4 linked regions of the Homo sapiens genome follow. The protein of the gene in region 3 interacts with the protein of the main gene of each other region in a biochemical or structural test. Each region holds a gene or a part of one and is shown on either strand. Other genes may lie near its edges.

What was found.
Region 1: the proteins of CDC73 (region 3) and USP37 form a complex in vitro, tested with the Homo sapiens proteins (one study listed by BioGRID).
Region 2: the proteins of CDC73 (region 3) and TCEA1 form a complex in vitro, tested with the Homo sapiens proteins (one study listed by BioGRID).
Region 4: the proteins of CDC73 (region 3) and USP25 form a complex in vitro, tested with the Homo sapiens proteins (one study listed by BioGRID).

Annotation. Positions count from the first base shown.
Region 1 is NC_000002.12:218,496,572-218,504,222, forward strand, and holds part of USP37 (ubiquitin carboxyl-terminal hydrolase 37), read right to left. Parts: intron 1,587-7,651; coding exon 1,455-1,586; intron 1,287-1,454; coding exon 1,163-1,286; intron 1-1,162. UniProt on the Homo sapiens protein: Deubiquitinase that plays a role in different processes including cell cycle regulation, DNA replication or DNA damage response.
Region 2 is NC_000008.11:54,013,536-54,021,186, forward strand, and holds part of TCEA1 (transcription elongation factor A protein 1), read right to left. Parts: intron 1-7,651.
Region 3 is NC_000001.11:193,147,562-193,155,212, forward strand, and holds part of CDC73 (parafibromin), read left to right. Parts: intron 1-305; coding exon 306-404; intron 405-2,742; coding exon 2,743-2,821; intron 2,822-4,818; coding exon 4,819-4,883; intron 4,884-7,651.
Region 4 is NC_000021.9:15,829,132-15,836,782, forward strand, and holds part of USP25 (ubiquitin carboxyl-terminal hydrolase 25), read left to right. Parts: intron 1-1,399; coding exon 1,400-1,470; intron 1,471-2,269; coding exon 2,270-2,498; intron 2,499-4,195; coding exon of another isoform or gene 4,196-4,209; exon of another isoform or gene 4,210-4,216; coding exon 4,217-4,417; intron 4,418-7,651. UniProt on the Homo sapiens protein: Deubiquitinating enzyme that hydrolyzes ubiquitin moieties conjugated to substrates and thus, functions in various biological processes including inflammation and immune response.

The sequences.
Region 1 (7,651 bases), on a different chromosome or scaffold from region 3:
AGGTCCTTGCACTGGTAAATCAAATCTATATTTGAAGAGTCACATTTAATCTTACTACAGCTCCTTAGGTTTTTCTTTCTTTCTTTCTTTCTTTGAGACAGATTTTCGCTCTTGTCACACAGGCTGGAGTACAATGGCACAATCTCGGCTCACTGCAACCTCTGCCTCCAGGGTTCAACCGATTATCCTGCATCAGCCTCCCAAGTAGCTGGGATTACAGACATGCGACATCACGCCTGGCTAATTTTTTTGTATTTTTAGTAGAGATGGGGTTTCACCTCATCAGTCAGGCTGGTCTGGAACTCCTGACCTCAGATGATCCACCCGCCTCGGCCTCTCAAAGTGCTGGGATTACAGGCATGAGCTACCGCACCCAGCCTCTCCTCAGGTTTTTCAATCTATAATGAACACACATACACAAATCTCGTTTTAAAATAAAAATCAAGAAACACACTAAAATCATGTCAATTTCCATGATTTCTTACACGTTATTTATTTGTTTTATTTTTATTTTTTTGAGACAGAGTCTTGCCCTGTAGCCCAGGTTGGAGTGCAATGGTGCGATCTCAGCTCACTGCAACCTCTGCCTCCCAGGTTCAAGAGATTCTCCGGCCTCAGCTTCCTGAGTAGCTGGGATTACAGGCATGTGCCACCATGCCCGGCTAATTTTTTTTAATCTTTAGTAGAGACAGGGTTTCACCATGTTGGCCAGGCTGGTCTCAAACTCCTGACCTCATGATCCACCCACCGTGGCCTCCCAAAGTGCTGGGATTATAGGCGTGAGCCACCGCACCTGGCCTATTTTATTTATTTTTATAAATATTTATTTATTTATTTTTTGAGATGGAGTCTTGCTCTGTCACCCAGGCTATAGTGCAGTGGTATGATCTTGGCTCACTACAACCTCTGCCTCCCGGGTTCAAGCAATTCTCCTGCCTCAGGCTCCCGAGAAGCTGGGATTACAGGCGCATGCCACCACGCCTGGCTAATTTTTGTATTTTTAGTAGACACAGGGTTTCGCCATGTTGGCCAGGCTGGTCTCAAACTCCTGACCTCAGTGACCTCAGGTGACCTGCCCACCTAGGCCTCCCAAAGTGCTGGAATTACAGACGTGAGCCACCGTGTCAGGCCTCTGAAACGTTTTAAAACAATTAATACTCACATTCTGCATATAACCAGAGAATCTCTCTGCTGTAGCTGAAATGGCATTTTTAACCTTCTTGAGTAAATCCTTTTTGGTCTCTGAATTACAGATATCTTTTTTAACAAGCAAGTGTGCAAAGCGTCTAGTAAAACAAAAAACACAAAGTTAGCACGTTTTACATGACATGGCGTGATATTTTAAAGAATAATTACTAATAATGGCACAGAAAATTTTTGAGTGTCTAAAATTCCATTATTCTATAATCAATGAAGTAAAAGGTTACTCAGTAAGTACAGTACATAATGATTACCTGATAAGTGCATTGAGTGGAATTTTCTTCCATGGGATACCTTGTTTAAGCAAGTCATTTGCAAATGACTGGAGTGAAAATAGAGATTGTAGAATAGCATTCATATAGCAGGTATTTCCCAAATTGGAGAAGCTGAAAATTAAAGAAATAGTGCTTTAGAAGGCAACAGGAATTCCTAAAGTATGTTCAGTATAGTAGGAGTTCTCCACTTTATGTTTCAGAATCACCTGGAGGGCTTGTTAAACTACATATTACTACACCCTAACCCCAAGGTTTCTGATTCAGTAGGTTTGGACACAAATGTGTCCAAAAAAAGAAGGCACAAAAATGTCCATTTCTAACAAGTTACTAGATCACGTTGATGCTGCTGGTCTGGGGACTCTACTTTGAGAACTACTGCATTATGACATTATAATAATAGGCCAGGCGCAGTGGCTCATGCCTGTAATCCAAGCACTTTGGGAGGCCGAGGCAGGCAGATCACTTGAGGTCAGTAGTTTGAGACCAGCCTGGCCAATATAGTGGAACACTGTCTCTACTAAAAACACAAAAATTAGCCAGGCATGGTGGTATGCGCCTGTAATCGCAGCTACTTGCAGGCTGAGGCACGAGAATCGCTTGAACCCAGGAGGCAGAGGTTGCAGTGAGCCAAGATTGTGCCATTGCACTCCAGCCTCAGCAACAGAGTGAGACTCTGTCTCAAAATAAATAAAATAAATAAATAAATAATAACTTAGTTTGATCTAATGGAAAAGTATACATTTTCAAAATTAATGCTAAACATGACTGGGGGCTTAACTAAAGTGCTTTTCATTCTTACTTATAATTTATTTTTTCATTTAAATATAACTTATTCATTTCTCTGAAAATGAATGCTCAGAAAAGGAATTACTGGGTCATAGAATATATGTGTTTAGGTACTGCCAAATCTTTTTCCTAAGTACAAATATATTTTAAAAACTTTTTATGCCGGGTGCAGTGGCTCATGCCTATAATCCCAGCACTTTGGGAGGCCAAGGCGGGTGGATCACAAGGTCAGGAGGTGGAAACCATCCTGGCTAACACGGTGAAACCCTGTCTCTACTAAAAATACAAAAAATTAGCCAGGCGTGGAGGCATGCGCCTGTAGTCCCAGCTACTTGGGAGGCTGAAGCAAGAGAATTGCTTGAACCCGGGAGGCGGAGCTTGCAGTAAGCTGAGATCACGCCACTGCACTCAAGCCTGGGCAACAGAGCAAGACTATGTTTTTTAAAAAAACAAAAAACAACAAAAAAAAACCTTTTAATTTAGAAATAAATTTAGACTTCCAGAAGAGATGCAAAAATCTTTACCTGGATTCACCAACTGTTATACTTCTGTAATGTGCACTTCATCACTTAATATCCCTCTCTCTATATATTTTTCTGAAACCATTTCAGAGTAAGTTGCATTTATTAAACCCCTTTAGTTCTAAATACTTTAGTGTATATTTCATAAGACCATTCTTATAAATAATCAGAGTACAATTATCAGCATCAGTAAATGTAACACTGATACAATATTCTATCTAATATACGTTTCTTAATTCAATTTTGTCAACAGATCCAAGAAGGTTCTTTATAGCTTTTCTTCCCTCACTTAGGTACAAGATTCAGTCCAGGATCACATGCTGTTTTCATGTATGTCTCTTTAGTTTTCTTTAATCTGGAGTAAGTCCTCAGCTTTCTCTTACATGACACTGACATTTTTGAAGAATACAGTTCTCCCTACCCTGGGTTGTTTTATTTTTGTTTTTGAGACAGGGTCTTGCTCTGTTGTCCTGGCTGGAGTGCAGTGGTGTGATGACAACGTACTGCAGCCTCAACCTCCCGGGCTCGAGCAATCCTCCCACCTCAGCTTCCCCACTACAATGTGTGCCACTATGCCTGGGTAATTTTTTAATTTTTGTAGAGATGGATCTCACTATGTTGCCTAGGCTGGTATTGAACTCCAGGGCTCAAGCAATCCTCCTTCCTTGGCCTCCCAAAGTGTTGGGATTACAGGCGTGAGCCACTGCACCCAGCCTGTTTTTTTCGTTTTTTCTTTTTTTAGACAGAGTCTTGCTCTGTTGCCCAGGATGGAGTGTAGTGGCGTGATCTCAGTTCACTACAACCTCTGCCTCCCGGGTTCAAGCAAGTCTCATGCCTCAGCCTCCCAAATAACTAGGGTGACAGGCGTGTGCCACCACACGCAGCTAATGTTTGTATTCATTTATTTATTTATTTATTTATTTTGAGACGGAGCCTTGCTCTGTTGCCCAGGCTGGAGTGCAGTGGTGTCATCTCGGCTTACAGCAACTTCCATCTCCCAGGTTCAAGCAATTCTCCTGCCTGAGCCTCCTGAGTAGCTGGGATTACAGGTGTGCACCACCAGGCCTGGCTAATTTTTTTGTATTTTTAGTAGAGGTTTCATCATGTTGATCAGGTTTGTCTTGAACTCCTGATCTGCCCGCCTTTGCCTCCCAAAGTGTTGGGATTACAGGCATGAGCCACCGTGCCCAGCCTGTATTTTTAATAGAGACGGCGTTTCCCCATGTTGGCCAGGCTGCTCTCGAACTCCTGACCTCAAGTGATTCACCTGCCTCAGCCTCCCAGAGTGCTGGGATTACAGGTGTGAGGCACTTCACCTGACCTAGCCTTATTTTTAATAGAACATCCCTCATACTGGGTTTGCTATTTCCTCATGATGAGATTCAGCCTAAACTGGAAGAGCACATGAACAAACAGTGATACCATGTCATGCCTTTTTTTTTTTTTTGAGAGCTTGTTTGGAGTTTCTAGCAGGGGAGTGCAGCTACTCGTATACTCTTGGCTGAAGACCAGTCCTCCTCTATTGGGGATGGTCATCCTCTTTGACTGAGCACGCAGGTTTGCGACAGACACACATGGAGTGGTGAGGGAGGAAGGGGATACCCGCCTAGCCAGTCAGATCAGCCAAATCAACCCTGGTGAACAACGGGGTGACAGATGTCACAGTCAGATCGCCCTCACATCCAATCTTTTTTTTTTTTTTTTTGAGAGGGTCTCATTCTGTTGCCCAGGCTGGAGCACAGTGGCACAATCTTGGCTCCCTGCAACCTCGACCCCCCCGGACTCAGATGATCCTCCCACCTCAGCTTCCTGAGTAGCTGGGGTTACAAATGCGCACCACCATGCCAGGCTAATTTTGTATTTTTTTGTAGAGACAGAATTTTGTCATGTTACCAAGGCTGGTTTTGAACTCCTGGGCTCAAGCAATCTGCCTGCCTTGACCTCCCAAAGTGTTGAGATTATAGGTGTGAGCCACATGTCTGGTGGACACTGTATCCTTCTAAGGGCATCACATCCAGGAATACATGATATTCCTGTGTTGCCCATGGGTGATGTCAATTTTGAGTACCTGAGAGAACTACTGCTTCTGCTTCTGCCTATGAGGAAGTTTGAGAGTCTGGAATTACCTTCCTACTATAAACAATGAGAAAACTGGACAAAATAGAGAAAACAGCTATTTTCAGATACTAGACAATAGGCAGCACAAAACAGTGATCCATAAGAGAAGGAAAATAAATGATGTGAGTCCTACTATTACCCAGATTTTCTGTCTGGAGGCAATTTGTGAACTGCAATTCAGGGAGCACCCAAACAGAGCCTAGAAATCTTACCAAGTTGAGCTGAGAGAAATGAGTTCGAAAAGCTGAGGTTGCTGAGATTTCTGGGACAGAGTACTTGAGAGGAAGGAACTGAACAAAGGAAAAGCTCCAGAAATCTGCATAGCAGTCTGCTTGAATATTTGGCTGAATACCAACCTGTGTATGCAGAGTGAAACTCAGTCTTCTTGACACTAATCAAGAACAACTTCAAGGAAAAGAATGTTTACTATGGAGCTACTGGCCAAACAACTCCCAGAACTCACACAGGGACTAAAATTCCACCAGTTCGAATTTACACCAGTCAGAGTAGAGAGACCTAGATGAATTCACAGAGTGTTAACAGAGACTCCAAAGGAACTATGCTTTAGGAAAGGAAGCAAATTAGCCTTAGAGTAAAGGATACTCTATATTCAAAAAGAACTTAAGCAGATCACACAGCTGAGAAAGAAGAAAAAAAACAGAAATGAAAAAGAAGAACTTAAACAGGAGACTCAAAACAATCAAAACTACTGCAGACAAGAATATTAAAACAACTACTTAAAATATGCTCTACACGATCAAGAATGGAAAGGAAATCATAAACATAATGAGAGAAGTGAAAGATTTTTTAAAGACCCAAATTAAACTTCTAGAGATGAAAATCACAATATTTAAAATGAAAATTTCACTTGATGCGATTAATAGCATATTAGACACTGTAGAAGGAAATATCTGAACTTGAAAAGACAGCAACAGAATAGATTCCCACTAAACCTGTGGGACGATATCAAATACAATTATATTTATATCAAATATAACTGGAATCCAGAGAGAAGAGTCAGAAAAAAAATCTGAAAAAATCAATATATAAAAACGTTCAAAATCTGATAAAAACTAGAAACCCACAGATCCAAGAAGCTCAACAAATCCCAAGTGAGATAAACACAAATCAAAATGAAGCCCACCAAAATAAAACTGCTAAAAATTAGCAACGAAGAGAAAATCTTGAAAAGCAGTCAGAGAAAAACTGTCTCAGTGCCTTCAAGGAGGAAGATTAAATCACTTACAAGGGCAGAAGAATTAGACTGGCATCTTATTTCTGAAAAGCAAATACAAAGCAAGGTAACAGTAAAGTAGCATTATAAGAAACCCAAGGAAAGAAAGCATGACCCAAGGATTTTACATCCAGCCAAACTATTTTTCAAATATCCAAGCTAGAGAAAAAATTTTGAATATGCAAGAACTAGGGAAACAAGGTACATAATTGTAAAGTTAAGACTAAAACAAGATTAAGACCGTAGGCTTCTAGTCAGAAATTATACAAAAAAGAAGACAAAGAAAAGATATCTTTAAAATACTGAAAGAAACACATTATCACGTTAGAGTTCTATATAAGCTAGATTTCTAGATCCAATGGAAATATCTTTTAAAATTAAAAGCAAAATCCTTTTTCTGACAAACAAAATCTGAGAATACTTGCTGCCAAGAGACACGCACTGTAAGAAATGTTAAAGCGACATTCTTCATGCAGAAGGAAAAATGATACCAGACAGAAACTCAGATCTACACAAAAGAAGAGCACTTAAAACAGGAAATCATGTGGGAAAATACAAAATACATTTCTGTCTCATCTTTTAATTTCTTTAAATACACTGGACTGTTTAAAACAATAACACCAAATAATACACTTTAAATAGGTAACTACACGGTACGTGAATTTTTAAGGCTGTAAAAAAATCCTAACTACGTATTGTGGGATGTATAACATACATAGAAGTAAAATGGGCTGGGCGCGGTGGCTCACGCCTGTAATCCCAGCACTTTGGAGGCCGAGGCGGGCAGATCACCTGAGGTCAGGAGTTCGAGACCAGCCTGACCAATATGGAGAAACCTCGTCTCTACTAAAAATATAAAATCAGCAGGGCGTGGTAGCACATGCCTATAATCCCAGCTACTCTGGAGGCTGAGGCAGAAGAATTGCTTGAACCCGGGAGGCGGAGGCTGCAGTGAGCCGAGATCGCACCGTTGCACTCCAGCCTGGGCAACGAGAGCAAAACTCCATCTCAAAAAAGAAAAAGAAAAAGAAAAAGCAGTAAAATGTATGATAACAGTATAAATGATGTGGGGTGGGAGGCAATAATGGAGATAAAATGAACACAAAGGAAAGAAAGAAAAGAGAAAAAAGTAACCAAGGACAGATGGAACAAATAGAAGACAATTAGCAAGATGGTAGACTTAAACTCAGCCTTATCCATAATTGTGAAAAATGTTAATGGTCTAAATACTTCAACCATCAATTTAGACTGGATGATCTAATCATAAAAATGTGGAGTCACTATTAATATAAGACACAGCAGACTTCAGAAAAATATTATCAGGGATAAAAAGGGGCATTTCATAACAATAGGGAGGTCGATTCATTAAGATTTAATTAATATAATCCTAAATGTGTATGTGCCAAAAACAAAGCTATAAAATACATAAAGTAAAAACTGACAGAACTGGAAGGAAAAATATACAGGTTTCTGGCCTAATATACAAATTTCTGACCTAAGTTCTACTTTACTGGGTA
Region 2 (7,651 bases), on a different chromosome or scaffold from region 3:
GGGCGTGGTGGCGGGCACCTGTAATCCCACAGCTACTCAGGAGGCTGAGGCAGGAGAATCACTTGAACCCAGGAGGCGGAGGTTGCAGTGAGCCGAGATCGTGCCACTGCACTCCAACCTGGACGATAGAGCAAAACTCCATCTCAAAAAAAAAAAAAAAAAAAAAACAAAAAACAGACAAACAAAAAGAAATAACTATGATGATCTGAATGAGTGAAATGCAAAACAGATAATCATACATTAATTCGGTGACAACAAACTTTGAGTGCTGCTATGTGCTTGGCATTGTTAAATACTTCACATAGATTTAATTCCACCTTCACCATAAACCCTATAGAAGCAGGTATTATCTCCATTTTACAGATGAGGAAATATGTCAAGAAACTTGCACAAGGTTCTATGATTACTAACTAGAAAAGGTAAGATCTACTCCAGTAATGTCAAATGTACCAAGCTCTACTGTACTGGGGATACAGCAGTGAGCAAGACTGAAACCCTTTCTGACATCAGGGAATTTTAAAACAAACAGAAATCTTTAATCATCTATTTCAAACCCTTAACTACACACAAAAAAAAGAAACTTAAACCCAGAAAAGAAAAGTGACTTGCCCAAGGTCATACTGACGGGTAGTAAGGTCATGAACTAGTCGCCTGACCCTTATACTGCTGCCCTTTCCCCAGCAGTGCGCCAGTGGCAGCACTCCTTTGTGAATTCAGATGACTAGTATCACCAAACAAGAAGCTGTATTTTAGCCTTCCCCAAGCATCACCTAGCTCTAAATGTCAAGCCTAGGCCAGGCACAATGGCTCAGCCTGTAATCCCAGCACTCTGGGAGGCCTAAGGCAGGAGGATCACTTGAGCCCAGGGGTTCGAGACCAGCCTGGATAACAGAATGAGATCCCACCTCTATTTAAAAAAAAAGAAAAGAAAAGAATACATGTCCAAGTCTATGAGATTGTAGCATCTCCTACAGATGATGCAAGAGAAAGAAAGACTCTTCTTTAATTTCCAGAGCCAAATTTAGTTCACACTACTGGCTGAAAGATAAACTACAGCTATCACACTATTTTATTACATTGTTGGTGCTCCTATCTGGTAATAGAAAACAAGTGATTTTATAAACCATGATACTTGTACTATGTGCTCAGTATACTCAAGACCATGTAGGATACGAACATCCCTCTCCTCAAGGAGATGTAAAAAGGAGGGAGTAATAGGGATTTATAGTTAAGAATATGGTGTACATATATGACAGATTTAGATTCAAATCCATGCTCTGACATTTGCTAACTACAAGATCTGGGTAATGTTATTTGTCCTTTTCAAGCTTCAGCTTCTTTATACGTAGGTGAGCATAACACACCAACCTTGAGTAGTTAAAACAGCCAAATGAGGCAACATTACACAGATAAAGTATCAAAATAGAGGGTCTGACACATAGCATGGTTGATGAGGAGTACAAAAATATACAAATAATTACTTATTTCTACCATAACAATAATCTCCAGGGGCCATAAGCCAGCATTTTCAGTGATCATATTTAAGCTCAATCAAGTAAAACAGTTACTTCTTCTATAATAATGTCTTCTTCATAGGCATTATTATAAGATTTCAAGGTTAAAGAATTAAGATATTATCCATTTTTTTTTTTTTGAGACAGTCTCACTGTGTCGCCCAGGCTGGAGTGCAGTGGCGTGATCTCAGTTCGCTGCAACCTCTACCTCCTGGGTTCAAGCGATTATCCTGCCTCAGCCTCCCAAGCAGCTGGGACTACAGGCGCCCACCACCACGCCCAACTAATTTTTGTATTTTCAGTAGAGATGGGGTTTCACTATGTTAGCCAGGCTGGTCTTGAACTCCTGACCTCGTGATCTGCCCACCTCAGCCTCCCAAAGTGCTGGGATTACAGGTGTGACCCACCATGCCTGGCCCATTATCTATTTTCTTAAACAATGAATTATAGATATTTGAGTTGTAGCTCAATAACATCACTATAAAGCTAGGACTTATGATATTACTATGTCATCTCAAATTTGCAGTTAAACTACACCAAAAGCACAAGCAACAAAAGAAAAATATATATAAATTCATCTTCATCAAAATTAGAATATTTTATACTTCAAAGGCCACAACCAAGAGCAGACAGACAACCCACAGAATGGGAGACAGTATCAGCATATCTAACAAGGTTCTAGTATTCAGAATATAAAGAACTCTTACAACTCAATAATAAAAAGACAACCCAATTTAAAAATGGACTAATCCAATTTGTACTCCAGCCTGGGCAACATAGCCAGACCCTGACTCTTTTCTAAAAAATGGGCAAAGGATCTGAATAGACATTTATTTCTCCATAGAAGATATGCAAATGGCCACAAAGCAATGAAAAGATGCTCAACATTGTTAATCACAAGGGACATGCAAATCAAACCCACAATGAAATACCACTTTACACCCACTAGGAAGGCTATAATCAAGACAAATGATATTGGTGAAAATGAGGTGAAACTGGAATCCTCACACACTGCTAGTTGGAATGTAAAATGGTGCAGCCACACTGGAAAGGTCTGGCAGTTCCTCAAAAGGTTAAACATAGTTACTATATGACCCAGTAATTATTCTCCGAGGTATACACCCAACAGAAATGAAAACATATGTCGCCAGGCGCGGTGGCTCACGCCTGTAATCCCGGCACTTTAGGAGGCCGAGGCGGGCAGATCATGAAGTCAGGAGATCGAGACCATCCTGGCTAATACAGTGAAACCCAGTCTCTACTAAAAATACAATAGCCGGGCATGGTGCTGGGTGCCTGTAGCCCCAGCTACTCGGGAGGCTGAGGCAGGAGAATGGTGGGAACCCGGGAGGCGGAGCTTACAGTGAGCCATCACACCACTGCACTCCAGCCGGGGTGACAGAGCGAGACACTTGTACAGCAATGTTTTTAACAGTATTATTCACAACAGCCAAAAAGCTGAAACAGCCCAAATGTCCACCAAATGATGAATGAATAAGCAAATCGTGGTTGGGTGCAGTGGCTCACATCTGTAATCCCAGCACTTTGGGAGGCTGAAGCGGGTAGATCACCTGAGATCAGGAGTTCTAGACCAGCTTGGCCGACATGGTGAAACCCTGTCTCTACTAAAAATACAAAAATCAGGCCAGGCGGTGTGGCTCACGCGTGGAAATCCCAGCACTTTGGGAGGCCAAGACAGGCGGATTATGAGGTCAGGAGTTTGAGACCGGCCTGGCCAATATGGTGAAACCCCATCTCTACTAAAAATACAAAAATTAGCCGGGTGTGGTGGTGCGCGCCTATAGTCCCAGCTACTCGGGAGGCTGAGACAGGAGAACTGCTTGAACCTGGGAGGCGGAGGTTGCAGTGAGCCGAGATCGCGCCACTGCACTCCAGCCTGAGCGACAGAGCAAGATGAGACTCCGTCTCAAAAAAAAAAAAAAAAAAAAAAGACTATACTAAGCAAAAGAGGCCAGTTACAAAAGACCACATACTGTATAATTTCACTGACAGAAAATTTCCAGATTTGGCAAACACACAGACAGAAAGTATATTAGTGGCTGTCAGAGGCGTGTGAGAAATTGGTGGGGGCAAATGAGGGCTGAATGAGGAGTGACTGCTTAATAGGTACAGGGTTTCTTTTTGGAGTGATGAAAATGTTCTAAAATTATACAGTAGTAATAGTTGCACAAACCCGTAAATACACTAAAAGCCACTGAATTAACAGTTGACCCTCAAATAACATGGGTTTAAACTGCACAGATTCACCTGAGAATTTTCTTTCACCTCTGCAACCCTAGATGACAAAACCAACTCTTCCTTTCTCCTCAGCTTATTCAATGTGAAGACAAAGAGGATGAAGACCTTTACGACGACACATTTCCACTTCATGAACAGTAAACATATTTTCTCTCCTTTATTTCTTTTCTTTTCTTTTTTGAGACATTGTCTCGCTCTGTCACCCAGGCTAAGTGCCTATAATCCCAACATTTTGGGAGGCCAAGGCAGGCAGATCACTTGAGTTCAGGAGTTCTAGATCAGCCTGGGCAATATGGTGAAACCCCATCTCTATAAAAAATACCCAAAAAAGGCTGGGCTCAGTGGCTCACGCCTGTAATCCCAGCAATTTGGGAGGCCGAGGCAGGTGAATCACTTGAGGTCAGGATGTGGAGACCAGCCTGAGAAAAATGGTAAAATCCCATCTCTACTAAAAATACAAAATTAGTTGGGTGTGGTGGCACGCACTTGTAGTCCCAGCTACTCGGGAAGCTGAGGTGGGAGAGCTGCTTAAACCCAGGAGGCGGAGGTTGCAGTGAGCCAAGATCATGCCACCACACTCCAGCCTGAGTGACATGACTGCATGAGTTATACTACTACAAAAGTTATACTACTTGACTGCATGCGGGTAGGGAGGGGGGATAGTGTGAGCACCACAACCCTTGCATTGTTCAAGAGTCAACTACACTTTAAGAATGAATTTAATTCTATTTCTCGATAAAGCTGTTATTAAAAATTGTATAGTCATTCTAAATTTTGAATTATGCTAATTAATCTAACTCTGATATAGATATCAAAGTTTTGTTGCAGTTGTTATTTTAACTGAGGTACTTGGAAATGTAAATCAATATTTCAGGTATCCCAGCTCCTACGAAATTCTAACATCTAATTTCAATTTCTCTCCCTGCAATTTAATTCCACTCAACCTTGAGCCTTCAATGAAATAAATAAATAAACCTCAGCACTACCCACAAAATCTCTCCATGAACTTCAAAACTTTATGTCCTTGCCTCACTCCTCCTTCTATAATCTAAATGAATCCTTTACAAAGAAAGGCAACCTCAGATTGTTTTTTAGGCCTTATTACATCCTTTAGGCCCACAATCCTACACTAGAAGCATTTTATATTCACTTAATCCTTACTAAATTATCTCCAGTTTACCATGACGAGAAACATTTTAGTGATGACAAAGAACTTGCCTAAAATCACACAGCTAAAGTTCAGAAAAGTTCAGAAAAGCCAGGATTTGAACCCACATTAGCAGTCAGACTTGGTTACTGACACCGAATCAAAGTGACAAGAAAACAGCTTAAGCAGAAAACAGCTAATACCTAAAAATTTCGAACTACTTTCTGTGGTTCACTGTGGCTTGGTCATGTGCACTTGAGATCAAGTACACATGTGGGACAACATCTTGGGTAGAACTAGGGTCAGGATATTGATCTAGGTAACTAGGGAAACACACCTGCCCCAAAACAGCAAGTTCATACTCTTACTTCCTGATTTTGTATTCACTTAATTGTATCCATGCATGGTTCAAGAGCAGATGCAAGGGTCTTCTAGAGAGACACTGTAGCTTAAGAGAGGAGTACTAGCTTTGGAGCAAAACAGATTTAGATTCACATCTTCACTTGGCCATTCACTAGCTATTTGGCTTAAGACTATTCTAAATACTTAGCATCCTCATTTTCAGAATGAGGATAATACTCATCTTGCAAAGTTGCCTGAGGAATAAATGGGATAAGGTGGGTAAGTATTTAGCAGAATACCTGGCTCAGAGTAATAGCTCAATAAATGGTAAGCTGTTTTTAGTTAAGTGTGACACCTATGGTTTTAGTAAAACAAAATTATTCAGGTAAAGCAGCAGCATGTTAAAATATTTTTTTAAATGATATCTAAATTTGCACTTAAATTTGTCAATTCTGATGACAACTATTACTCTTCAAAGTTAACTTTTTCAGGCTGGGCGCAGTGGCTCACATCTGTAATCCCAGCACTCTGGGAGGCCAGGACGGGCAGATCACCTGAGATCAGGAGTTCAAGACCAGCCTGGCCAATACGTTGAAATCCCATCTCTACTAAAAATACGAAAATTAGCCAGGCATGGTGGTGCACACCTGTAGTCCCAGCTTCTAGGGAGGCTGAGGCAAGAGAATCGCTTGAACTGGGGAGGCGGAGGTTGCAGTGAGCCGAGATTGCACCACTGCACTCTAGCCTGGGTAACAGAGTGACACTGTCTCAAAAAAAAAAAAAAAAAGTTAACTTTTTCATAATATAAAACATTAAAAAAGCTGAGAGAAAAATCTGAAAACTACCGAAAAAAAGAGAAACACATATACCATAATTCTACAACCCCTAAAACACATTTTGTTGAATTACTGAACACTTAAAAAGCCATCTGTAGGCTGATGATGCAGTTGGGGAAAAGAGGAGTGTCATTCTGACCATTTCTCTTTCTCTGTATTTCATCAGCCTGTTTGAATTTCCAGAGGACAGGCAGGGAAAATGCTGGGGAAAACAAAAGTACAAGAGCCAGTCAGTTTTACCTTTCTTTTTGGGAGGCAAGTTTTCATACTGGAAAAGTTTTGAACTACCTGAAAACTTAGATTTGAGAAGAAAACTTAGATTTGAGGATTATTTGTGGAGTTTATTCTCATTCTCTTCCAGACTCATTACAAAAGATCTGAAAATTTGTTGACGATTTGAGAACTGCAGATAAATATGAATTTATCTTCTCCACACCTGCCCACTAAAAAATTACTTAGAAACATTATTACAAGGAAAGAAACAAAATCAAGCAAACATCTAATGCATTAGATGATTAAAGGATACATATTACAGCCTAAGTTGGAGAGAACATTACCCAACAAATGGCTTTTTTTCCCTGGGAGCTTCTACTGTGCAAGTCTGGGGATCTCCAGACCAGAGAAAAATCTTCCAGTTTAAACAAAATAACGAAAATGTTCCAATAACCAGATAACCTATCAAATAACCAGAATTTGAAGTGGGAAATGAAGGGCCATATCAATGGGGAGGAAAAATGGCACTGGTAATATCTAGAACAGAAAATAAACAGGAAATACTTTAAAAGGCCAAAATTTGCAAATACAGATTAACAGGGTATGAAATGAAATACGAGGCAATGCACCTGTTAAAGGAAAAAGGGGAACAGAGGATGTTTGAAGTCTTACGTATTTAGTGTTAACACTAATTCCTGATCTAGCTGTCATGTGGAAAGCATGCTGTCCAGAAGAAAACCTGGGTCCTGGCTTATTCCAAACTACACAGTACTTAATTTAAGTAGTAGTACTTAATCTCTCTCAGTGTCTTAATCTGTAAAATGGATACCCTTTATGTACTCACAGCTCTGTGTGAGTCACAAAAGAATTTTGAGCAGATGCTTTTTAACTCCAAAGTGCTGTACAAATCAGAGCATCCCTTTTCTCTTCACATTAGTTTGACATGGAATTTACTTCATAGATGGAAGAAAAATTATTTCAGGTACACTGATGATGAAAATGTGCCGAACGTGGTTAAACAAATTTAGGTGAGGACAATTATATAAGTTTACCTGAGAGGCCAGGCGCAGTGGCCTCACGCCTGTAATCCCAGCACTTTGGGAGGCTGAGGTGGGCGGATCACCTGAGGTCAGGAGTTCGAGACCAGCCTGGTTAAGATGGTGAAACCCCGTTTCTACTAAAAATACAAAAAAATAGCCAGGCGTGGTGGCGCACGTCTGTAATCCCAGCTACTCGGGAGGCTGAGGCAGGAGAATCACTTGAACCCGAGAGGCGGAGGTTGCAGTGAGCCGAGATCAAGCCATTGCACTCCAGCTTGTGCAACAAGAGTTAAACTCCGT
Region 3 (7,651 bases):
TTTCACCTGTGTTAGCCAGGGTGGTCTCCATCTCCTGACCTCGTGATCTGCCTGCCTTGGCCTCCCGAATGTAGCAGTTTAAGTAAAATGAAAATGATGAAATGAATACCATGGGATTTACAATAATCAGTCTCTGGATCAATATCTTAGTAGTGGTTGGTTTTTACATATGTGTATAATAATGATACCTTATGACATATGTAGTAGGGAAGAATCGATAGTAAGATAACTTAGTCTTAAATTATCAACTAAATTTACTATTGTATATTTAAAGTGGGCTTAATTAAAATCCATTTATATTTTAGAATTTTTCCAAGAACATTTTTGCAATTCTTCAATCTGTAAAAGCCAGAGAAGAAGGGCGTGCACCTGAACAGCGACCTGCCCCAAATGCAGCACCTGTGGTAAGAATGCTTTACTGCTTTACAGTAGATTTAATGAAGTTGCCACTTATATTGCAGTGTAGTAACGTTGAAGACATCTTCACATTTTAAAATCAGTGGATTCTAAACCTTTTGCTCCTTTAGCATATCTGAAAGATGTGAAAGCCCTCCCCAACATTAAAAGTTACTTACTTCAGCAGTAATTCTTAACTGGAGCAGTAATTCTTAATATACCTGGGTCAGAGTCTGAAAAAGGTTAATTAGGGAAAGCCCTCTATTTATTTTAGGTAAACTGTGGCTGGCCTACTCATTGTTGCTTGGGACAATTGCTAACCATTGTTAATAACATAAATCCCTGTTAACTCCCAGTTTGGGGTTCTTTTTGGCATTGTATCTATTACATCTTGGTGAATGTATTTCTCTTGATCACCAGCCATGCTGTCCTTTAATTGTACCTCCATTTCAGCTGCTCTGAGAGTTGACTGCCTTCTCTTTGAAGTGCCACTTAAGACCCTCCCAAAGTAAATTTCACGTATGACATATAGCCTATATTTAAATTCAAACATCCTCTAATTTTGTTGAAAATCCTTCCAGCTATTTTCATATGATTCAACAAAGGAATAAAACATACAAATGAAATTGTTTCTATTTTCTGCAATAGAAAATAGAAGATTCTATAAATAGAAAATTTATAATTTTTTTTTTTTTTTTTTTTTTTTTTGAGACAGTCTCACTCTGTTGCCCAGGCTGGAGTCAGTGGCACGATCTTGGCTCACTGCAACCTCCGCCTCCTGGGTTCAAGCGATTCTTCTGCCTCAGCCTCCCAAGTAGCCAGGATTACAGGCGCATGCCACCCCACCCAGCTAATTTTTGTATTTTTAGTAGAGATGGGGTTTCGTCCTGTTCAAGACCAGGCCGGTCTTGAACTTCTGACCTCAGGTGATCTGCCCACCTCGGCCTTCCAGAAAACCTTCTATATTTTTAAAACTCTGTTTCAAGTTTTAAAAGGCACATTGAAATGTATTAGAGTACTAATACAGCCTTTGCAACTACTTTGTAGTAGTTTTATTTGCTCATGAAATTGTTGGAATTTAACTTTTAAAGATGGTAGGCTTTTGTTGATAATTAGATAAATACTTTTAGTTGACTCTCCATCAAGTACTTAAGTGCCTTCTATTAGGAAGTCTGCTAATGATCTTGAGATACAATAGTGAGAAAGATTATAGTCCCTACTTTCTTTGAGCTTATAGTCTAATACAGCAGTCCCCAACCTTTTTGGCACCAGGGACCAGTTTCGTAGAAGACAGTTTTTTCATGGACCAGGGGGAGGTTTTTGGAATGAAACTGTTCCACCTCAGATCCTCAGGGTTTAGTTAGATTCTCAAACGACCATGTAACCTAGATCTCTCAGCAGTTCCCTACTTATTAGATGTTTTTTTTTTTTTAAAGTAGTGGAGTAAGAGCTATGATGGCAAAGCACAAGGTACTTAGAATTATGAATTTGTTGACATTTTGAATAGCTGTTGATAGGAAACATGTCAAACCTTAAAACAGTTTTACCATTTGTGACTGATTATTCTTTCTGTATATTTATATAATCGTTAGAATACTTGAAGGTTTTAATGTTTGGCATTTGACTATAGAAGTATATGCCTAGTGTGAAGTAAGCATATACTTATCATTCTTGATAGGTATTGATAAGTATATTTTATTTGGCATAATATTTGATATAGAATCCTATCATAATAAAATGAAAAGTATTTCAGTCTTCATGAATTTTCCAAGTAGCTTTGGGAATATTCCTAAATATGTGTTTTTAGTTTGTTAAACATTGTGAGTTTTGATAAAGTATTTGTGATTAAATAATGCATCATTAGACTGACAGCCTTTTCTAATTATTTAAAAAAAATACGTCTTCAGTCTTACTCTGTTTATAATGGATTAATCATCATGGCTTTCATGTTTATTTAAGGATTAATAATTTGGGTTTTTTTGTTTTGTTAAAACAATCATAATTGCAGGGAAGAGTATTATGTCGTAAAGGTACTTTAGCCAGGTATGGTGGCTCATGCCTGTAATCTTAGCACTTTGCGAGACTGAGGTCGATCACCTGAGGCTGGGATTCAAAACCAGCTTGAGCAGCATGGTGAAACTTTGTCTTTATAAAAAAAAAAAAATTAGCTGAGTGTGGTGGTGCATGCCTGTGGTCCCAGCTACTTGGAAGGCTGAGGTGGGAGGATCACTTGGGCCCAGGAGGTCTTGGCTGCAGTGAGCCATGGTCATGCTACTGCACTCCAGCACATTAAATAAGTGACATTTAAAAATATTAACAAGTAACTCATAATTAATTTTTTTACAGGATCCCACTTTGCGCACCAAACAGCCTATCCCAGCTGCCTATAACAGATACGATCAGGAAAGATTCAAAGGAAAAGAAGGCAAGTTGCTTAATTCTTATCTTCCCCTTAGTGTGGTTGTGTTGAACTTGAGAGGCAGTGTGGCCTGATGTTTAAGGGTAAGGGTTGGCAAAGTAATGTCTACAGACCAGATCTTACCCACTGCAATTTTTCTTAAATAACATTTTGTTGGGACACAACCACACTCATTCATTTATGTATTTTATATATGGCTGCTTTGGCTTTGTGACATCAGTATTGAATTGTTTCAGTAGAGACTGTGTAGCCTACAAAGCCTAAAAATATTATCTGGCCCTTTACAGAAAAAAAGTTGGCCAACCCCTGGTTAATAGCATGGATTCTGGATCCAGATAGCTTATGTCGTAGTAACTTTTTGTGTGAATTTTAATGTTACTTTAACTGCATTCTGCCTTAGTTTTCTCCTGTGTATAATTAAAATGTTATTATAGTGCCTGTCTCTTACCATTATTGTGAGTATTGGACTGGTTAATAAATATTGAATTCCCAGAATAGTATCTGATATGTAAGTAAATTATCTATAAATGTTTGCTGTTATTCATACTGCTTTTGTTTTTATATAATTTAAAGTAGAGATTCTATATGTTAAGTCATTTTTCCCAAGTTATAAATGTGTATGTACATTGAGAACTTGGAAACAAATTTTGAGCAATGATGGGAGGACTTACTTTGTGATAGTCTACGTGGTATTCTGGCTAATGCAATAACACCATTTCTGCAGTTGTGAGGTGAGACTAATGTCAGTGTAACTTCCTCTTGGGATCTTCATTCATCATGACTTGATTCATGAAAATATTAGGTAGAAGCAACTGGAAGTTAATGATATTTTTAAGCATAATCTGAAATCTTCATTTAAGTTTTTTTTAAATGATATGTTGCCTTGATGCAATGAATTTTGTGTGCTGACTTCATTCAGTTGTTAAAGGCATGCACTGGATATGTGCCATAGAAAGACTACGTCCATTCTTTCATTATAATATTCAATGTTTTTCTTGAGGAATGAATTATATAAAGCAGAGGTTGATAAATTACAGCCCCCAAACTAAATATCACCCTCCATGGGCCAAATTGGGTTGCCCCCAATTGATCACATATATTGTTTATTCTGCTTTTGCACTAAAATACAGAATTGGGCAGTTGTGACAGATTTTAAGGCTTGCAATGTGTTAAAATATTTGCCTTTACAGAAAGGCATATTGGGATTCTGTCCTGGCACTCCAATCATTATTTACAACATTGCTTTCTATAAAATATGTAATATGGTTGATTGCTGTAGCTCACACCTGTAATCCCAGCACTTTTGGAGGTGGAGGCAGGAGGATTGCTTGAGTTCAGTACTTTGTGACCAGCCTGAGCAACATGGCAAAACCGCATCTCTACTAAAAATACAAAAAAATACCTGGGTGTGGTGGTGCATGCCAGTGGTCCTAGCTACTCGGGAGGCTGAGGTGGGAGGATTGCTTGAACCTGTGGAGGGGGGATGGGAGAAGAGGTTGCAGTGAACTGCAGTGCCACTGTACTCCAGCCTAGGTGACAGAGTGAGACCCTGTCTCAAAAGAAAAAATATATATGTATGTATGTATATAAAAATAAGTATATGCCTTATGACTGAAACTTTGGAACACTACTTTTTATAACTTTGGGTCTTTTCATGGTATTAGATGCTTTTAGTGGTACTATCATTGAGTATTAGTAGTAAGTAATTTGGGGTTATAAAGTATTCAATCTTAATTTTTGAACATAATTGCAGAGATAGTCTTAACCAGCTTCTATACAATAGGCTTGCTGGTCTGTATTTAATATATTAATATTTTTTAACCTAGAGTCCTTTTTAAAGTTTTTATCTTCACAAGTACGTAATTTAATTTTACATAGTAGATTCAAGGCTTTGTATATTATTGAACCATCACATTCAATGTAGATTATTACTTTAGATTTGTTATAGGTCATAAGATACATGATCTATAAAATCTTAACAATAAGCCTCTTTTTTTTCGTAGAAACGGAAGGCTTCAAAATTGACACTATGGGAACCTACCATGGTATGACACTGAAATCTGTAACGGTAAGTTAATTTGGCTGTAGATGTTCTTTTGTTCCAGGGATTTTATGTGAGTAGCACATGTTGAAGTAAATCTTTAGTCTCTCATATTTTTTATTTCAAACATTTTTCTTTATTGATCACTTGTGCTGATTGATCTGTGTGGTGTATTATTTGATTCATGGGTATCCTGTTTCATTTTTCTTTTCCTTCAAATTAAGTTGAATATATGTAAATAAAAGCTGATTTGATTAACTTGCAAGTAGGGCAATGCCACCTGGTCAGTATTTAAAGCCTTTAAGTTATGAGGTCAGTTTGGGAGAGCTTTTTCGCATAATATCTTTTGTTTTTATTTTTATTTATTTATTTATTTTTTTGAGACAGAGTCTCGCTCTGTCGCCCAGGCTGGAGTGCAGTGGTGCGATCTCGGCTCACTGCAACCTCCGCCTCCCGGGTTCACGCCATTCTCCTGCCTCAGCCTCTGCGAGTAGCTGGGACTACAGGTGCCCACCACCATGCCCAGCTAATTTTCTTGTATTTTTAGTAGAGACGGGGTTTCGCTGTGGTCTGGATCTCCTGACCTCGTGATCGCCCGCCTCAGCCTCCTGAAGTGCTGGGATTACAAGTGTGAGCCACCGTGCCCAGCCTTGTTTTTAACAATGTAATGTCTTTCGCTCTTTAAAGAGATGGATTATAGTGATTATAATGCTTACAAAGTATGTAATTAACAGAACTAAATACTTGGGTATCTGTGAATATAAGCCTTTGGTTCATGTTTAGCAAACTTTCTTTTTTTAACCTAAAAATGGTTATTTCTATATATTCTGACCAAGCCATATTTAACATTTTAAATTTTTATTTAATGATCGGACTTGGTGATGTAGAACAGGAATTCTGTTAACCTCATTTTGCATATTTATATTCTAGACCATTCTACCTTTTATACTTTTATTTATATTCTAGATTATTATACTTTTAAAATACTATGCATGTGTATTAAATAGAGTATACTTAAGACACTAATACCAAACTTTTGTCTTTGCTTGTGAATCATCAGATCTTTACGGACTCTATATAACATGGAATCATTATATATGTGCTGTGGTTTCTCAGAATTAACATATAACTTTATATCTACGTGGGCTTTTACGTGTTTTACTCACTCATTTCCAAAAGCAAATAGCAAGTATAGAGATCTGATTTTAAGTTTGTTTTTTTCTGGACTTCAAATTGGGATTGGATATCAGATATTTTGTTAATATACTTGTTTTTAAATTGTCATCAGATTTGTTTTTGTATTATTAAATTATGTGTAGATTAATGAATTCATTCAACAAGTACTTATTGAGCATTTGTGTCAGATCCTGTTCTTGTTGCTGGTCATACAGCTGTGAATAAGACAGATGAGCCTTGTTTAGAGAGAGAAGTCAGAGATACTTCTCTCAGGAGGTAACAGTTGAGCAGAGAGACTTGGATAGCATTCCTCTACGTCAAGGCAGGGATCAAGACTGAGGTCCAGTAGAGCAACAGCAAGGAGGCCAGTGTTGCTAGAGTTTGGAGAACTAAGGGAAAAGTCATCAGGGATTAGATACTCCCATCTTATGCGATCTGCCTGGTTCTTCCTGACTTCAATATATAATTCATGGCTGAAGATTTAGTTTAAATTCTTATGTGATTTGGTTATTGACATCTTGGGAACAGAACTTGCCTACTAATCATTTCCCTAAGTGCGACAGAACTTGCCCGCTGATCATTCCCTGAGTGAATTAGTCGTAGAATGAAGTTGTTACCCTTGGGGAGCCATCAAAGTAAGTTTTTTGTTATTTTTGTGATTGTTGTTTTTACTTTTCTCATCCATCCCTGTACCTCTGAAATGCCATGAAATGGTTTTATTATCTGAGCTTCTTTGCAAGTAGTAAAATCTGTGATGGGTTTTACAGTGATGCTTTGTACAGAGCAGTTTTTCTAAAATTTAAGGATAGCTTCTTTATTGATCAGTATGAGAATGATGTGATTCTGCGGCATCATCAGAGACTGTTCTAAATATACTGAAAGAGGTGAATTTAAGCAATATACTGAAGTATACTGAAAAGAGAGGTGAACTTAAGCAAATTTATGCTGTGTGATTTTTAAAGAATAGTCATGAAAAAGGCATTGTGTAGGAATGCAACAGAAAGACTAAAAATGGTTAAATTGCTGATAGTTATATTAATACCCAGTTTGAATCTCTGTGTTGCTTGTGATCTGATTTATGCAGTTGTTAGAATTAATACATAGAGAAATTTGAACTTGAAAGCTTTGAAGTTCTCAGATAATTATTTTTTAGTTGTGTCTCAGACTTACGTTTTCAATTTAATATTTTTTTCTCTTCTTTTCTGCTTTGGAATTACTACCTATTTGTGAGCTTGTGAGTTGCACCAACTTTCTACCTTATTCTCCAGTCAAGAAAGTTTCTCCTTTATAATATCCACCCAGACATACAGTGATGTTAAATGTATGTTAAAAGGCTTTGCTGCCCAGATGTAACTTCCTTCCTAATTTATGTATAGTTCATTTTTGCAGCCATTGTTCTCCAAGGTTTTGATATGCCTGGTTGATGTACATAGTTAATAAAATTAGGATCAGTCTATGTATCTTTTAAGTTAAACATCAGATTTCTGTTATATGCAAGACTAAATTATGCAGACGGCTAGAATATTTTTATACAGATAATTTCCTATATATATATGTTGTAGAGAAGGATATGTTTTGATAATCACATTTCATAAGAATCATGGGTTAGTGAAAGTTTT
Region 4 (7,651 bases), on a different chromosome or scaffold from region 3:
ATATACATATTTATACACTTCTGTAAGTAGGATATGTTCTTTTTTATGTTCAGGGGTACATGTGCAGGTTTGCTATAAAGGTAAATTACATGTCTTGGGGGTTTGGTGTAAGATTATTTCATCATGCAGGTAATAAGCACAGTACCTGATAGGTGGTTTTTCCATCCTCACCCTGCTCCCACCCTCCACCCTAATGTAGGCCCCAATATCTGTTGTTTCCTTATGTCCACCATTTCTGGTTCAGAGTGTGTATATTTTAAATTTTGACGACTGTTTTAAAATTGTCACTCCAAAACATTAAACCAGTTTGCATTCCCACTGTGTGAGAGAGCCTGTCTCCCAGTATCCTCCCTAGCCCTGGACACTTTTTAGTAGTTTTTCACAATTGAAAAACTGGTATTTTAGTGTTTTGATTTGCATTCCCTTAGCTTCGAGTGAAGTTGGATATTTATATTGTTCTGTAAATTTCTTGTTTGTGACATTTGCCCATTTTTTAAGTATTGAGCTATTTGTATTTTTCTTATTACTTAATAGAAAGTTTAATGTATTGTGGATATTAACACTTTACCTATAATATCACATATGCTGCAGATATTATTTTCCCAGTTTTTCATTTGATTTTATGTTGGTTTTGTTTTCTTTTTATAATGTAGATTTTTTAAAGTGTTGGGCAGGGAGGATCTTATCTTTTCCTATAAGGTTACTAGTTTTCTGACAGGCTTAAGACAGGTCTTTCCCCACTCTAAAGTTAGCCAGTTTCTTTTATAGTTTTTCAAGGTTTCTTCCTGATTGGTTCAGCAGCTTCACAATATGATGTGGTTACAATCTAACCGTTTCCTTATTGACAGATATTTAGGTTATCTCTTTTTTAAAAATTATTGTGGACAATATGACTGTGAACATCCCTATCTGAACAATTTTGTAGGATTATTTTCTACTAGAAGTAGAAATAATTGTCATGGGAGTGCCATAATTTTATTTTCACTGGTGATTATAGTCGATTTTTATTCAGTTATGTGTGTGTACAAGATATGTGGTGAACATGTTTTACTTTGTTCTTAAGTTTACTTGTGTTATAGCAATATGTAAGGAAGCTTAGCTTTCATTTTCATTGAAACTCTCCTTTATAGATTTGAACAAAATTCACTTTTATTGGCTCTGCACATTTTCTAGATAAATCATATTTGTGTTGTTTTTAAAGTATGCATTTGTACTGTGTCTTTTATTAAGAATAACTATAATTCATTTTCTACAGATTTCAAATGGTAATGTTTTTTAAGAAAAGTTTTAGGAAAATTTTCCTATTCCTCTAACATGTTTGTAGGAAAAACATTAGTCCTTATCTTATAAGTAGAAACACATTTGCTGTTAATCATTAAATGACACCTTATATCCTTAGATTTGCAGGAAAGCATATCCAGAATCCATCGAACAATTGAATTAATGTACTCTGACAAATCTATGATACAAGTAAGTGAAATTTTGAGCTAGTAATCATTGTCAAAATTATTTACATATATTTTAATTTACCTTTACATTATCTTAATCTAATTTTTCTTTACATGTTTTGTTTTAAAATTTTGGCAAATCTTATTGTAAAATAATAAGGGCTTGCAATATGTACAATGTGACAGTTCATCTGAATGGGGAAACTTTTATAACAAATTTATAACAAAATTCATGACAAGTTTTCCCCATTCAGTTGTATTTTCACACCGTATGTGTTGTGTACCCTTACTATTTTACAGTAAAATCTACCAAAGTTTTTCAAAAGGCTATAGCATCTTTAAAAAGTCTTATGGGAGAAAATCTATGGTTGTTAAAGGATATTAAGATTTGGGAAGAAACTTAAGGACTCCATTACATTTTAACTTCTGGTGTATATCATATAATCTATTTTGTTAACCGTCAATTTAGAATTCTGAAGATGTAGACACATTTGCTATATGTAAAACTGCCCACTATAAGCTTTTTATTCAAATAAACAATTAGGCCAATGAGTATGTACACAATAAATACATTTTTAGTTTTTCAAAAATCATCTTTTTAATCTATCAACTTTGCATATCTTTAGCTTATTCAGATTCCGTCTTTTTAAAGTTTTATAGTTTAGTTTTTTTCAAACTTTTAAGCCCAGCCAGTTCTCTCTCATTTAAAAAAAAAAATGCTCTTATGGTTTTCTCCAAACAGGTTGTTTGTGGGTTTCATGGAATGTGGTATATAGTAAACTACATAATTGCAGTTTAACTCTTCTTTTTTTCACATTTAGGTTCCTTATCGATTACATGCCGTTTTAGTTCACGAAGGCCAAGCTAATGCTGGGCACTACTGGGCATATATTTTTGATCATCGTGAAAGCAGATGGATGAAGTACAATGATATTGCTGTGACAAAATCATCATGGGAAGAGCTAGTGAGGGACTCTTTTGGTGGTTATAGAAATGCCAGTGCATACTGTTTAATGTACATAAATGATAAGGCACAGTTCCTAATACAAGGTAAGAATATATAGGGTGGTGTGTATTTTTAAATAGTCATAAAAGTGGCTCTGGTATGTGGTGTGATTAGTTAAGTGTAATTCACTCAGACGATGAAGGATGTGGTTAGGAAATGCTACTGGGTTTTGACAAGACTGAATTGAAAAGTAATGTCGTCAGGGCTAAGAATTCGTATATATTTTGTATTCCAAGTCAACTATTAAAGGTAAATATGACCTTTTTCGTCCTTGCTAAAAATGCTTTAGTGACTGTTCCACAGATTGACTCACATTTAATATTTAATTCCTTAGCCTAACATATATGGCCTCTGTTCTTGGCCTCTGATTATCTCCCCACCTTCATTGATCACCAGTGTTCCTTTTGAATTTATATCCTTACTGAACTTCTTGCTGTATCTGCTCATATCAAACCATTTCACACATTTATGTTTGCATGTTCGTATATGTTTTATTTTTTGCTAGTAATTCTTTTGCCTAATTCTTGTTTATCTGTCAAGATTCAATTCAGGTGTCATTTCCCCTGCAAACTATTTCTTGATCTGCCAAAAAGTATCTCTCCTTATGCTGTCCTGGCATCTGTCTACTGGGCATTTACTGTTGTGTATTGGAACTGTGTGATGACTTGTCTTGCACATTTCTCTCTTATCTGCTCAGAGCCAGAGATCATGTCATACTATGTCTGAATCTTTTTAATGCTGATATTCTGATATATGCTTTGCATATAGAAAATAATAAAGGTTTATTGAAACTGATAAAAATAATCTTTTTATATTTAGTCATTCAGAATCAGCTAGGCAGTCCACTTCTGACTAAAAAAATGAAGTTATTTTTCTGTGTGTGTAGTAGAAGTTCAGTAATTCTTCTGAATACTCTATTGTTTTTAAGATCTTGCTATATTAATTTTCATAATTGCATATTTAAGTCTACTTAATTTCTTCATATGACAAACAATTTTCATTTTATTTTGAGCTAATAAGGTTAACATGATTATGAGTTGTTTACATTTTGTGAAAAGTTTTACTTTTTAAGTGATCAAACATCTGGTATTTTCCAATAGTGGCAGAAGTAGTATTACATCACTGTTAGAGTAGCAAAGAAAAAAAAAAATGGCCGGGCGCGGTGGCTTATGCCTGTAATCCCAGCACTTTGGGAGGCCAAGGTGGGCAGATCATGAGGTCAGGAGATCGAGACCATCCTGGCTAACACAGTGAAACCCCATTCTACTAAAAATACAAAAAAATTAGCCGGGCTTGGTGGTGGGCACCTGTAGTCTCAGCTACCCGGGAGGCTGAGGCGGGAGAATCGTCTGAACCCGGAAGGCGGAGGTTGCAGTGAGCCGAGATTGTGTCACTGCACTCCAGCCTGAGTGACAGCATGACACTCTGTCTCAAAAAAACAAACAACAACAGCAACAAAAAACTTGGCTTTGGCTTTGTATTTTCTGTCACTTCTACTCTTAAGATAAAAAAAAATCTGAGACCATTACCTATGATGGATTATCAAATATTTTCATCATTGTTTTTCTGAGCATTTGTTTGAGTTTTAAAAAGTTTTGTAGATAATAATTATTTGCTAAGCAATAGTAATTCTTAAGTAATATGATTGGCTGAGTGGTAATAATTCATAGTTTAAATTCTATTTGAAATGCAGTCTATTTTGAGCTTTGCATTTTCCCTTTAATTCTTAATTTTATACTAGTTTTTGAAATATGATTTGCAGAGGAGTTTAATAAAGAAACTGGGCAGCCCCTTGTTGGTATAGAAACATTACCACCGGATTTGAGAGATTTTGTTGAGGAAGACAACCAACGATTTGAAAAAGAACTAGAAGAATGGGATGCACAACTTGCCCAGAAAGCTTTGCAGGAAAAGCTTTTAGCGTCTCAGAAATTGAGAGAGTCAGAGACTTCTGTGACAACAGGTTTGTCCATTTTTATTAAGTTGTGTTTGATTATCAATATTATTTTTATAATAAGATATGCTCATTATTAAAAAGTTTTAGCTATCTTAAAGTGTGAGGAAATCAGTAGAAATCATTTCAAATTCCATCACTCAGATTATCACAGTTAACAATTTAGTTTACCTTTTTGCCAGACACCACTGTATATATTTATATGTTTTTCAAGATAAATGAGATAATTCTGTTGACTTTCCCTCTACCTACTCTGCCTGTGTTGGGTGGGCTTGAATTTTCTTGGCAAGTAGCAGAGAAAGCTGTGAAATCAGCAAGAAACCCAAACCAATTCACTAAAGCTATCAAGAGTATCAATTCAATAAAGCTATCAAGAGTATCAATTCAATAAAGCTATCAAGAGTAGTAATTTTAAATTTGGCCAAAATAATACTACCGGTATATTCATATATACTTTGTGCAATAGTAAAATACTACCATTAATAACTATTTGATGTTTTTCGGAATTCTTAAGATTAAGAGAAAATTGACCAAAACTATTTAGTATATCACAGGTAAAAAGTAAGTGTATAGACCTGTAAACCAAAGATATAAATGCATAAACATATAAATATTTAAAAACATTATTCTGAAATGAACTATTAGCTGATGAAATCAATAAGTCAAAGTAAACACTGTATAGGAATTAAGAAAATAGTTTCTAGTAAAATTGAAAATATATTGTCTTTTTATTTTCTTAAAAGATTACTCTTCACTGAGTTGCAAATATGTTTTAGGGCAACATGTTTTCTGGTATAGAAAATGCTATTTCTCAGAGAAGCTATAAATTAAGCGCATATATTTTCCTCAAACTCATTTGTCTCTTTTTATAACTGCTAGTGGATATTATTGAATAACTTTTTTTTTTTGCAAGATCTGCATGTTTTGTGTTTTAAGGAAGTAGTTCCAGCTTTTGTTTGTTTAATTTCATCTTTCGCAGACAGAGGTTTCCTTGCAGCATTACCTGGTTGGGCTTCAGCATTATCATTTGAACTTTAGAAGGAATTATTACTTCAATAGAAGATTGTTTTACAGTGCTACAATGTAGTATTGTGACTGTCGCAGGCATGCACAAATCTGTCCAGATACTTAACTTATTTTCATGTAGATCAAATAATTGTCGTTGATTTTGATCCTGAGAGGCAGATAATTCAGCATTTTTTAAAAAGATAATGGTATCACAGCAACATTTGGATACTACAGTGCTATGGAGAATACCACCATTATAGTGGCTGGTGAACTCTACCATTATGTAGGGCTGCACTTTTCCCCCACGTGTACAAGGCTACCGCGTAGAGCAGGTGAAGCTATGTGGGTCCACAACAATGTAGTTTTTAGTAGATGTCAAGAGGTATCTAAGCTCAAATCACAGTGTAGTAACTATATTATAGTTCCTTTCATTTTTAAAACATTTCTGTCCCTTTGTGATTTCATGCTTTGCATTCTGTACATATTCTTTCCAAATCACTCCTCAGAACCTGCCCCAAGATGGAGCTACTGTGTTATTGTTCCCTTAACATTTACTTATTCCATTCACATGTGACTATTCTTGTTATTAGTGGGAGGAAGGGGCTGCATAGTGTACTATAAGCAGTTGTGGTACCTAAGCTCCCAGACACAGGTGAATCCTCCATTCATTGGTTAAGCTCCAGTTTTATTCTTGGCTCACCTATATTTTGTGATACCAAAATATTAAGTTCTATATATCCTCCTCCTCTTCATCCTGTCTGTTTCTCATCTCTCCAAATTTTCAGAGTTAACATATTTTATTTCTGCTTAGTCAAACGAATACATATTTCCAACTAATATTCCTATCTATTAAGGACTAGCCTTGCCCCATCCTCATTTTACATTTGTCATCTTTTTTCTTTCTCTGTGAAAAGACCATGTGTGCATAACTGCATCCATTTTCATGATCAATACATCTGACCATACACTTTACATGGTGTTTTGTAATTTTTAAAAAATGCAGTACTAGGTATTGGACATATATTTTCATGTCTGTTTTTACCATGCAAAATAATCTTAGAATGTTGATATATTTCTGGGAGGAACCAGAATAAAAGATGAAGAGATGGAAATGGTCAATTCCTATTCCTAGATAACTTTTATAGTTACCTTTCAGCGTGGGTTATTTAGAAAGCAGTGGTAATACTACTTCTGTAGGAAACATTGTATCCTCCATAGACTTGACGGAAATATGCACTTGGTTTGAATTAGTAGAAGTAGAACATGCCAAGTCCATAAATTTACAGAGTGAGATTGTTGTTTAAAAGATTGGTTTCTATTACTGTTATCTTTGAGATTATATTAAGAAATTTGTTCTCTGTTGCAGGATAGTTTCACATATCATAATTGAATAAGACTAATGTTTCATTAGAACCATTTATTCCCTATTATTAATAGGGAAATTTTATTTTAATGTCCATGCCATCCTCTTCTGATTCTTCTCATGGTTTTCAAAGTAAGTAATTTAATTTGGTATAATACTTCCAGGATCTCAAAGCAAATCTGTATTTTAATCTCTCAGGTGTTCACTAGTATTACCAGTGACTAGTGGAAATAATAAAAGGAAATCTTGTTCATAAAATCCAACAGAATGATTTTTTTCCTCCCTGCAAAATCTTCTCGTTAAAGCTGAAACATAAGACCTCATAAAATTCAATTTCTACTGAGTGATATTCCAATTAAGAGTACTAATTCATATTATATTAATCAAATTAGTATTTGTTCCTCTTCTGCTAAAATGTGATCGAGAAATTCATGCGTATCAGTTCACCAGCACCATTCGTTCCCTACTGAGATAATAAATGATGGGAAAGTATTTTTTGGTTCATTTCATGCTGCTTCCCTAGATCTGCTTACTGCAAAGGCAAACTTACCTGAATACTTTTGTTGAGATTTTCAGCCAGCCATTCTTTGCTGTCAGTGTGGGGATCAGAATGAGTAGGGGAGCAAACTTACCTGAATACTGTTGTTGAGATTTTCAGCCAGCCATTCTTTGCTGTCAGTGTGGGGATCAGAATGAGTAGGGGAGCAAACTTACCTGAATACTGTTGTTGAGATTTTCAGCCAGCCATTCTTTGCTGTCAGTGTGGGGATCAGAATGAGTAGGGGAGCAAACTTACCTGAATACTGTTGTTGAGATTTTCAGCCAGCCATTCTTTGCTGTCAGTGTGTGGATCAGAGTGAGTAGGGGAGCAA